Linked DNA regions of Homo sapiens: region 2 is linked to region 1. Evidence: fine-mapped expression QTL. A gene starts in region 1. The other region holds a variant in brackets. All regions are shown on one strand. Distances are from middle to middle. Region 1 holds the start of AFF1 (ALF transcription elongation factor 1). Region 2 overlaps AFF1 (ALF transcription elongation factor 1).

Evidence for each region. PIP is the estimated chance that this variant, and not a neighbour inherited with it, causes the effect. A credible set is the group of variants that fine-mapping cannot tell apart.
Region 2: its variant is the best candidate, but not a certain one, in a credible set for the expression of AFF1 in subcutaneous fat (TwinsUK, PIP 0.60).

What each region holds. Positions count from the first base shown.
Region 1 is chr4:86,932,884-86,937,413 of GRCh38, forward strand. AFF1 (ALF transcription elongation factor 1) reads left to right here and starts at 2,128. Exons shown (of 21, transcript NM_001166693.3): 1 at 2,128-2,357. AFF1-AS1 (AFF1 antisense RNA 1) reads right to left here and starts at 1,967. Exons shown (of 3, transcript NR_038841.1): 1 at 1,604-1,967; 2 at 512-659. It also overlaps a transcript of C4orf36 not described here. RefSeq lists silencers at 1,833-2,582, 3,053-3,191 and enhancers at 2,504-3,045, 3,046-3,587, 3,443-3,562.
Region 2 is chr4:86,983,849-86,987,848 of GRCh38, forward strand. All of the region lies in intron 2 of AFF1 (ALF transcription elongation factor 1), which reads left to right. Among named protein-coding and RNA genes, the nearest start is that of AFF1, 51 kb to the left of the region's middle. The variant G/T (reference allele first, on the strand shown) is at 2,236.

The DNA of each region.
Region 1 (4,530 bases):
GCTGGAATTTCATTGAGTGTGCTAAAAATGTAATTTAAGAATTCTTGTAAGGAAGATGATGGAGGAAAGTGTAGCTAACAAAGTTAAATATCTGCAACTCCATTACATAATTACTCTCCTTTTGTTTATGTCTGAAATTTAAAAAGTAGATATAAAAAATTTTTTAAAGTAGATATAGTGTAATCACTTTTTAAAATAGCCTTCTTATTGACTATTTATATAAGATGACCAGCAGAAGAGAGAGAAAGGCAACTTAAAAAATAATAATAACTCACTGGCATGGCTATCCTTTTTTATTCATTATCAGAAAATTAATTTGATTTAGTCTTTTTAAATAGCCAGTCACCATTCACGAAATAAATCAACAGAAGTGTGTACTGGAATTATTTACTTGCTTGTTTCTGCCACCACACTGGAATGTCATGAAAATAGGAGCTCTGTCTTTGTCATCAATATGGCTCGTCACCTAGCACATTGCCTTAAGAATATTGATATAAATGGAATGACTTACTCTCTGAACCAAAGCTACATCATCTTCAACAAAATTTTTGCAAAATTACAATCTTCAATTCCAAAGGCAGGAAAATAAAATGATCACACTTCCACTGTCAACATCATTTACTAAGTTGACCACAGTTTGAAGAGCCCTATAGGAGATACTATGGGATGACACAAAAAGAACACAAAAAAGGAAAACATTTTAGATAGAAGTGGTAAAAGTTTTCAGATTATAAAATATTACCATGCTAATATATATTTCACAATGAAATGTATTCATTATATAGCAAAAACGTTAAAATACTTGTTATTGATTAGAATAGAGATCAGTCTCTGTTAGAAACCTTTAAAAGGTGTACAAACACTTTGTAAGAGATGACTCCTGTCCCATCCTGCTCAGGGATGACCAGAACTTTCATCTTAGATAGATACACCACCAGGTTTCATCAGGGACACCTTAATTATTTTAGCTGTCTAGGTAAACCAATCTCCCGATGGGAGGATATGGAGTAGGGCGAAGAGTTATATTTTGGAAAACAATCCATGGGAAATTAAGTCAAGTAGCCAAAGGTTTAATTTGGAAATGCAAATATCCATCAATTAGGTTTTCAATTATGTGGACAATAAAAGAGTTGAGCAGAGCAGTAGAGACAAACAAAATTAAAAAGAGAAAAGGCAGAGAAGGCAGGGAGGGGCTTATTTTCACACATTATACCAATTTACATTACACATCATATTAAATTTAAGTAAGGCGCTTTTCTTCATCCAAATAATTTCACCCATTTTAAACCATAAAATACTGTCGGCGAAATCTCATCTGGGCCATTTGATGTAATCTTTCTGCGTCCCTTTCAGGAAGGAAGGTGCGACAACACAATGAAGACAGCCTGTTGCTTTCCTTGGTATGTTTACAGCAGGAATCGGGCAGCGACTTAACTAGACATAAGTTTCCCCTTCTTCCCATGGGTCTATTTGCCAAAGCCCCCTGCACCTATTAGAATTTTCTGAGGTTGGGCTGGTGGAGAGCAGAAACCCGGAGGCTAGATTCAGGAGACCTGGTTTCCCATGCCACTTAGTAGCCTGTGACATTGAGCACAATACTTACTTTTCGGCGCTTCCGTTTCATTATTTGGGAAATGGGAACAATATATCTGTTTTATAAGATTGTTGTGAAGATGAAACAGGCCTGTGTGTGAAAGGCCTTTTCTAAATTGTAAAGCGCTCCCCAGATGTTAGTTATTATCTCCTTTAAAGGGCACAGAATCTGTTTCAATATTATAGGAGGTTGCAAAAAGGCTCCTTGACACTTTTTGCTCAGAACTTGACCCTGAGCTTAATCTCGCCGTAAAGTGAAAGGGTTCTTGCGCCCCCACAGCAGCCCGGGGCAGGGTCACCCTCGCGACCGGGGCGGTCATTGCCGTATTCCGTCCTGAGCTGCCGCTCCCCCACGATCCTCCCACCAATCCCGGGAGGGCCGCGACGTCCCTTGCCGCTTGGGTGGCGCCAGCTAGAGGGCGCGGGCCGGGGCGGAACCCGGTACCGCAGCTCGGGAGGTGGGGGTGGGGGCGGGGCCTCGCGCGGAGGGCGTGGCCTCGGGGCGTCCCGGGCAGCCGGCGTGCTGAGCTTGCCAGCCAGCTAGCGAGCGACGGGCGCGCGCGGCCCCTGCGCACTCGGCCGCCGCCTGCGCGCGTTGCGGCCGCAGCTGCACCTTTGCCTCCGCGGTTCCGCAGCCGAGCCCCGGGAGGAGGCGCTCCCCTGCGTCGTCCGCACTTGCGCCCTTTCCCACCGCAACAGGTCAGGGGAGGGCGGAGGTGACGAGGGCGCCCGACCCGGGACTAGAGGACGGAAGGGTCTGGAAGGTGAGCGCAGCCCTGCGCCACCCAGGGCTGGGGGTCGATCCGCCCGGCCCCCGACGCCGCCGCCGCGGACTTCTCGGAAGCCGAGGCTCTCCCCGCCTCTCTGCCGGCTTCCCAGCACGCTGACTCAAGTCGCTGGCGTTCCCACTTTTCCGGTGGGAGCCCTCGGGGAGAACGGGCTAGGGCTCAGAGCTCTCACCGCCCTACTTGCGATCCCGCGGCAGGTAGCGCGTAGAAAAACAGGGGACGGGGACATGGGAAGAGACCCATGCTCCTCCCTCACGCGCAGCCCCCAAGTCAGACGTTTGCCTGTGCACCCCGCGTTTTGCGGAGAGCTGTCCCGTTGTTGGGACCTGCTACTTGAGTTGCGTAATGAGTCCCAGAAGTTTCTCGGGGGGAGGGGGCGGGGAAAAGTGGGGTTCTTCTCTCCTGCACCCCGGGACCCTTCCCTGTGCCTGTCGTGGAGAGAGATGAGGGCTTCCCGCCGCGTCTCGCTGAGAGCAGGAGGGAGGCGTGTGTCGGTGGTCCGTAGCCTCCGGGGAGGAGTTGGAGCCACCTTCTGAGACTTAACTTCAGGGACAGAGGGAGAGGCGTCTTTAGTATGGGACTGGTTAATTTCTCTTGATAATGCTTTTTTCCCTCGGGTGTCCCATCCTCTGTGGCCGTCGCAACCCCACCCTCCGACGGTGCGAGCGCCGGAGCCAGCGAATGAGAGGGGAGAGAAGGTGGAGAGTGTGAATCACACGTTACCTTAGTGTAATGGTAGTTGCATTAATGGAGCTGCGACGGGCCTGCGGGCGGTTCGATACCGTCCGGCTAGTTTTCTCTTCCCGGAGCTTCTCCACCACCAGCACCCGCAAATTGTTATGCAGATCATCCCGGGAAGGCACTTGGCTTTGGAGGTGGAGATGTGTCCGAATCTCCCTTGAACCAGTCTCTGTTAGGGGGAAAGGCCTTGCAGCCAAGTGATTTGTTTTAAGGGTGGAGCCGGAGATAATTTTAAACACCCTCCCCCTTGGTGCACGTTGCGGGGTGTGACTCACCACGGGGAAATCAGACTGATTTAAAACCTTCAGTGCAAACTTGTAAATTAAGGCGAAGACCCAGTGTTCCCTGGGACAGTTGCAAAGTGAGAAGAGCTCAGAAACTGAAGCACAGAAACGTTAGGTAGGAGTCTGAGAGGCGTGGAGAATTTTGCTTGTGCAAGATTATTTCAGAGCAAGGTCGTGCGGTGTGTGTAGAAGGTAGGTGGCCGTGGGTTACCTCTCTCAGACCTGCGTGGTGTTGGCCTCTGGGTGGGGATAAAAGTCACGAAAAAGACCTTTGGACCCAGAGTCTAGTTTTTTTTCTTTGGGGCCGAAGAATACCTAGGCATGGCCCTGTTTCAGTGTTTACTTCCTCTGTCTAATGTATTTCCTTAGCTCGCCTTTCATCTTTAGTGGGAAGGATTACTTGAGTGGATATTCCGGAAGTAGATTCACAGGAGAATGGAAAATTCTGGATGGTTTGCTTGCTTTAATTTCAAGGTGTTGTCTCTTGTGGATGTTGGGAAGTATTGTACTTGAATATTTGAAGATAAATATGGAGAAAAGCAGTGGTGAGAACTAAAGGAAAATGATCCAAGGGGAGATGAGAGAAAGCAACAAAATACATAAGTAGTACGTAAAACTAGAGAAACTCACTGGAATTAAGCCATTTTTATGGAGAGAAAGAACCAAGGAAATAATTTGGGATAGATTTGGTCACTTTGAGACAAATAGAGATTGAAGAGTGGGACTTTTGGGGAAAATGAGTTTAGATATTGGAGACTTTTCTTTTTTCAAATATAACTTACAAGGATGTTGAGGCTGGAGATGTGAGACTTGCAGGTATGTTGCTGTGAATTCTTTGCTTTTCACCTGCAAGAAAATGAACTGTTAAATATTAATCTGCCTTATTCACTGTAACAATTGAATTTGTGGCTTTGGCATTTGCTTAACTCTTCAACTTTGCAAAACTATAATTTTGAAGAATCACAGTGTGTTAAATTAGAATACAAAGATCATTTAGAGATTGAAAATTTATGACAAAAGTCCAGGCCATTGTAAACATTGCTTTCTCCTACATGCGTAACAGGCATGCATTTTTTGCCACCAGAATCACTAATCTACTATAGGGTAATAAGACTATATCAAAA
Region 2 (4,000 bases), 51 kb after region 1:
AACACGGTGAAACCCCGTCTCTACTAAAAATACAAAAAATTAGCCAGGCGTGATGGTGGGTGCCTATAGTCCCAGCTACTCGGGAGGCTGAGGCAGGAGAATGGTGTGAACCCGGGAGGTGGAGCTTGCAGTGAGCTGAGATGGCGCCACTGCACTCCAGCCTGGGTGACAGAGCGAGACTCCATCTCAAAAAAAAAGAAAAAGAAAAAAGAAATGCTTTGCCAATGTATCTAGTGTTTTAAATCATAGCCTACTAAATATTACTTTTTTCATTTCTTTATAAATGTGTAAGTGACAGAATTATTAGCATTTTGACAGAAATTTGTAAATGCTGTGGACAATCGTAATTTTTCCTGTTGATGATTAAGGTTGTTTGGCACAGTTTCGGCTTTCATAGTCGTTTCTATGGTCCTGCACTATTTTTCAAAGTGAGAACTGTATTTCAAGTGACCCTTTTTTTTTTCCAAGTGACATTTTTTTTTCTTTTTTTTTTTTTTGTGACTGAGTCTTGCTCTGTTGCCCAGGCTGAGGTGCAGTGGTGCAATCTCAGCTCACGCAACTTCTGTCTCCTGGATTCAAGCAATTCTGCTTCAGCCTCCCGAGTAGCTGAGACTAGGCGCACGTCACCATGTGCAGCTAATTTCTTTTGTGTTTTAGTAGAGACAGGGTTTCACCGTGTTGCCCAGGCTAGTCTCGAACTCTGAGCTCAGGCAGTCCGCCCGCCTCGGCCTCCCAAAGTGCTAGGATTACAGGCATGAGCCACTGTGCCTGGCCAAGATACATCTTAAGGATGAAAAAGAAAGAAAGCTGGATACAGTGGTTTAAGCTTGTTATCCCAGCACTTTGGGAGGCTGAGGTGGGAGGATTGCTTGTGTCCAGGAGTTTGACATCAGCCTGCGAAGCATAGCAATATCTTGTCTATATAAAAAATTTTAAAAAGTAGCTGGGCATATAGTCCCGCTACTTGGGATTCTGAGGCAGGAGGATTGCTTGAGCCCAGGAGGCTGAGGCTGCAGTGAGCTGTGATGATGCCACTGCATTCCAGCCTGGCAGCAGAATGAGACTCCATCTAAAAAAATAAAAATAAAAAAGACAAATCTTAAAGTGTTCTCAGCAAACATGTTTAGTAATGGTATTGGTATTATTATTGTACTTGTTAAGAAACAAATAGAGAAAAGAGATACAAACAAAATCAAACAGTTTAAAACACTGTAATCCTAAATTTAATAGAAAAGGGAAACTAACATGTTTTATAAATACAAATATTAATAGTAATATAATATATATAATTATGCATAATATATAAAAATATAATATATATAATATGTATTACTATATATATATATATATATATATATATATATATAAAATTATATTTTAGGCCGGGCAGAGGGGCTCACGCCTGTAATCCCAGCACTTTGGGAGGCCGAGGTGGGTGGATCACCTGAGGTCAGGAGTTTGAGACCAGCCTGGCCAACATGGCAAAACCCTGTCTCTACTAAAAATACAAAAATTAGCTGGGTGTGGTGGTGGGCGCCTGTAATCTCAGCTACTCAGGAGCCTGAGACAGGAGAATTGCTGGAACCTGGGAGGCAGAAGTTGCAGTGAGCCAAGATCATTGCACTCCAGCCCGGGCCGACAACAGCGAGACACTGTCTCAAAAAAAAAAAAAAAAAATGTAGCTCGGCGTGGTGGCAGGTGCCTGTAATCTCAGCTCCTCGGGAGGCTGAGGCAGGAGAATCGCTTGAACCCTTGAAGCGGAGGTTGCAGTGAGCCAAGATCACACCATTGCACTCCAGCCTGTGCGAAAAGAGCAAAACTCCATCTTAGTAAATAAATAAACAAAAATTAAAATGATACTAAATAGCAAAATCCAGTAGTTACTTTTGGAAAATGGCAGGGAACTAACTCATAATTAAAAAAATAATAATAAAAGAATCAAGCATTTATCCTAGTTTTTTGAATAAGCTGTAACTCAGTGTAACTAAATGATAGAGAAAAAGTTATTTACAGAAAAAAAAACTAATAAAAAGTGATAACATTATCATTTTGCATCCTCTCTCTGAATAAGCAAAGATTACCACTAATTGATAATACTGTTAGGTAAAGAGCTGGTGAGAAACTTTGTAATGGGATGTCTTAAAGTGACTAATTAAACACCTGAATCCTTTTTTTAAAATTTAATTCAATTCAATTTAATTTAATTTAATTTAATTTAATTTAATTTAATTTAAT[G/T]TAATTGGAGACCGAATCTCACTCTGTTGCCCAGGCTGGAGTGCAGTGGCATGATCTCAACTCACTGCAACCTCCACCTCCTGGGTTCAAGCGATCTTGTGCCTCGACCTCCCGAGTAGCTGGGAGTACAGGTGCCTGCCACCACGCCCAGCTAATTTTTGTATTTTTAGTGGAGACAGGGTTTCACCATGTTGGCCAGGCTGGTCTTGAACACCTGACCTCAGGTGATCCACCCGCCTTGGCCTCCCGTAGTGCTGTGTTACAGGCATGAGCCACCGTGCCTGGCCCTGAATCCATTATTTAAAGTTAAGATATTTTTAAAAAGAGTTAACTATTGTGCCTCTTCTCGTGATTTAATGAGGTATAGACTAACCACCTATGAAATAGTCTTTCCAAAAATTTAGACAGAAATCTGATCAAGCCAGTTTATAGAACATACATTCAACTGAGAAACATGTTAAAGGACTCTTCTTGGATGCTGTCAGCAAAATTCATAATGTTAGAACTCTGCAGAAAAAAAAAATTGTTTTTCCCCCAACAAATAAATCTCATAAAAAAGAATATAGATTATAAAGAAGCCTAAGAGACATATCAACCCTTAATAAAAGGATCCTGTTTGGCTCTGAACACACTAATGAAATTGGAAGAATAATTAGATATTTGATGCTAGTAAGGGAAATTTTATTAATATTACATTAATATTAAGTAATATTACATTAATATCAAGTAATAAACATTTTAGATAACATAATAGTATTGTGGTTATTATTATTATTTTTAAAATCATCATTTTTTAAAGAGAGGGTCTCTGTTGCCCAGGCTGGGGTGCAGTGGTATGAGCATGGCTTGCTGGGTACAAGTGATCCTCTGGCCTCACTGTCCTGAGTAGCTGGGACTACAGGTACACACCACCATGCCCAGCTAATTTCATATTATTTTTTGTAGAGATGGGGGTCTTGCTATGTTGCCCAGGCTGGTCTCAAACTGCTGGCATCAGGTGATTCTCTTGCCTTAAATCCTCATCTTCAAGCCTATTTAAAACTGAAAACCCTTATCCTGAATTTCTTATCAGTAAAATAAGGAAGAGGACTAAATGTCTTTGCTGCTTTCTCTGTGCTCTGCTCTAGCTGTTATATAATAGCCACTCCCTCATGATTTCCTTCTCAGAATCTTATTATTATAATGTATAAGCAATAATGTTGCTTGTGGATAAGACTTTATTTAATGCGTCTACCTCTGGGGGCAGGAACTTCAGGGCTCACGCTGGATGACCTGATTGACCCTAGGAAGTTGCTCTGTACCCTCTTCCAGACCATTTGTCCCCTCCTGAGCAGGATCTGAACATAACAGCTCTGGGCCTTGAGTCAGGGGTCATTTAGGGTCTTGATAACCAAGAATGTATAGACTGGGATGAGTTAGACTTGGTGGAGAGCCAACCCTCTGTGTGGAAGTCCTAATTCTTCAGTAGGTGATAACTGATTAATACCCATGTGGAAACCAGAAGCAATAACCACCAGAGAGTAGTAATGATTTGGCACACCACCCCCTTTTTGCAAGTTATTATTTGTGTTTTAAAAATCATTCAGTCTGGCCAGGCACAGTGGTCATGCCTGTAATCCCAGCACTTGGGAGGCCGAGGCGGGTGGATTACTTGAGGCCAGGAGTTTGAGACCAGCCTGGCCAACATAGTGAAACCCCATCTCTACTAAAAATACAAAAATTAGCTGGGCATGGTGGCACACGCTCGTAGTCCCAGGTACTCGGG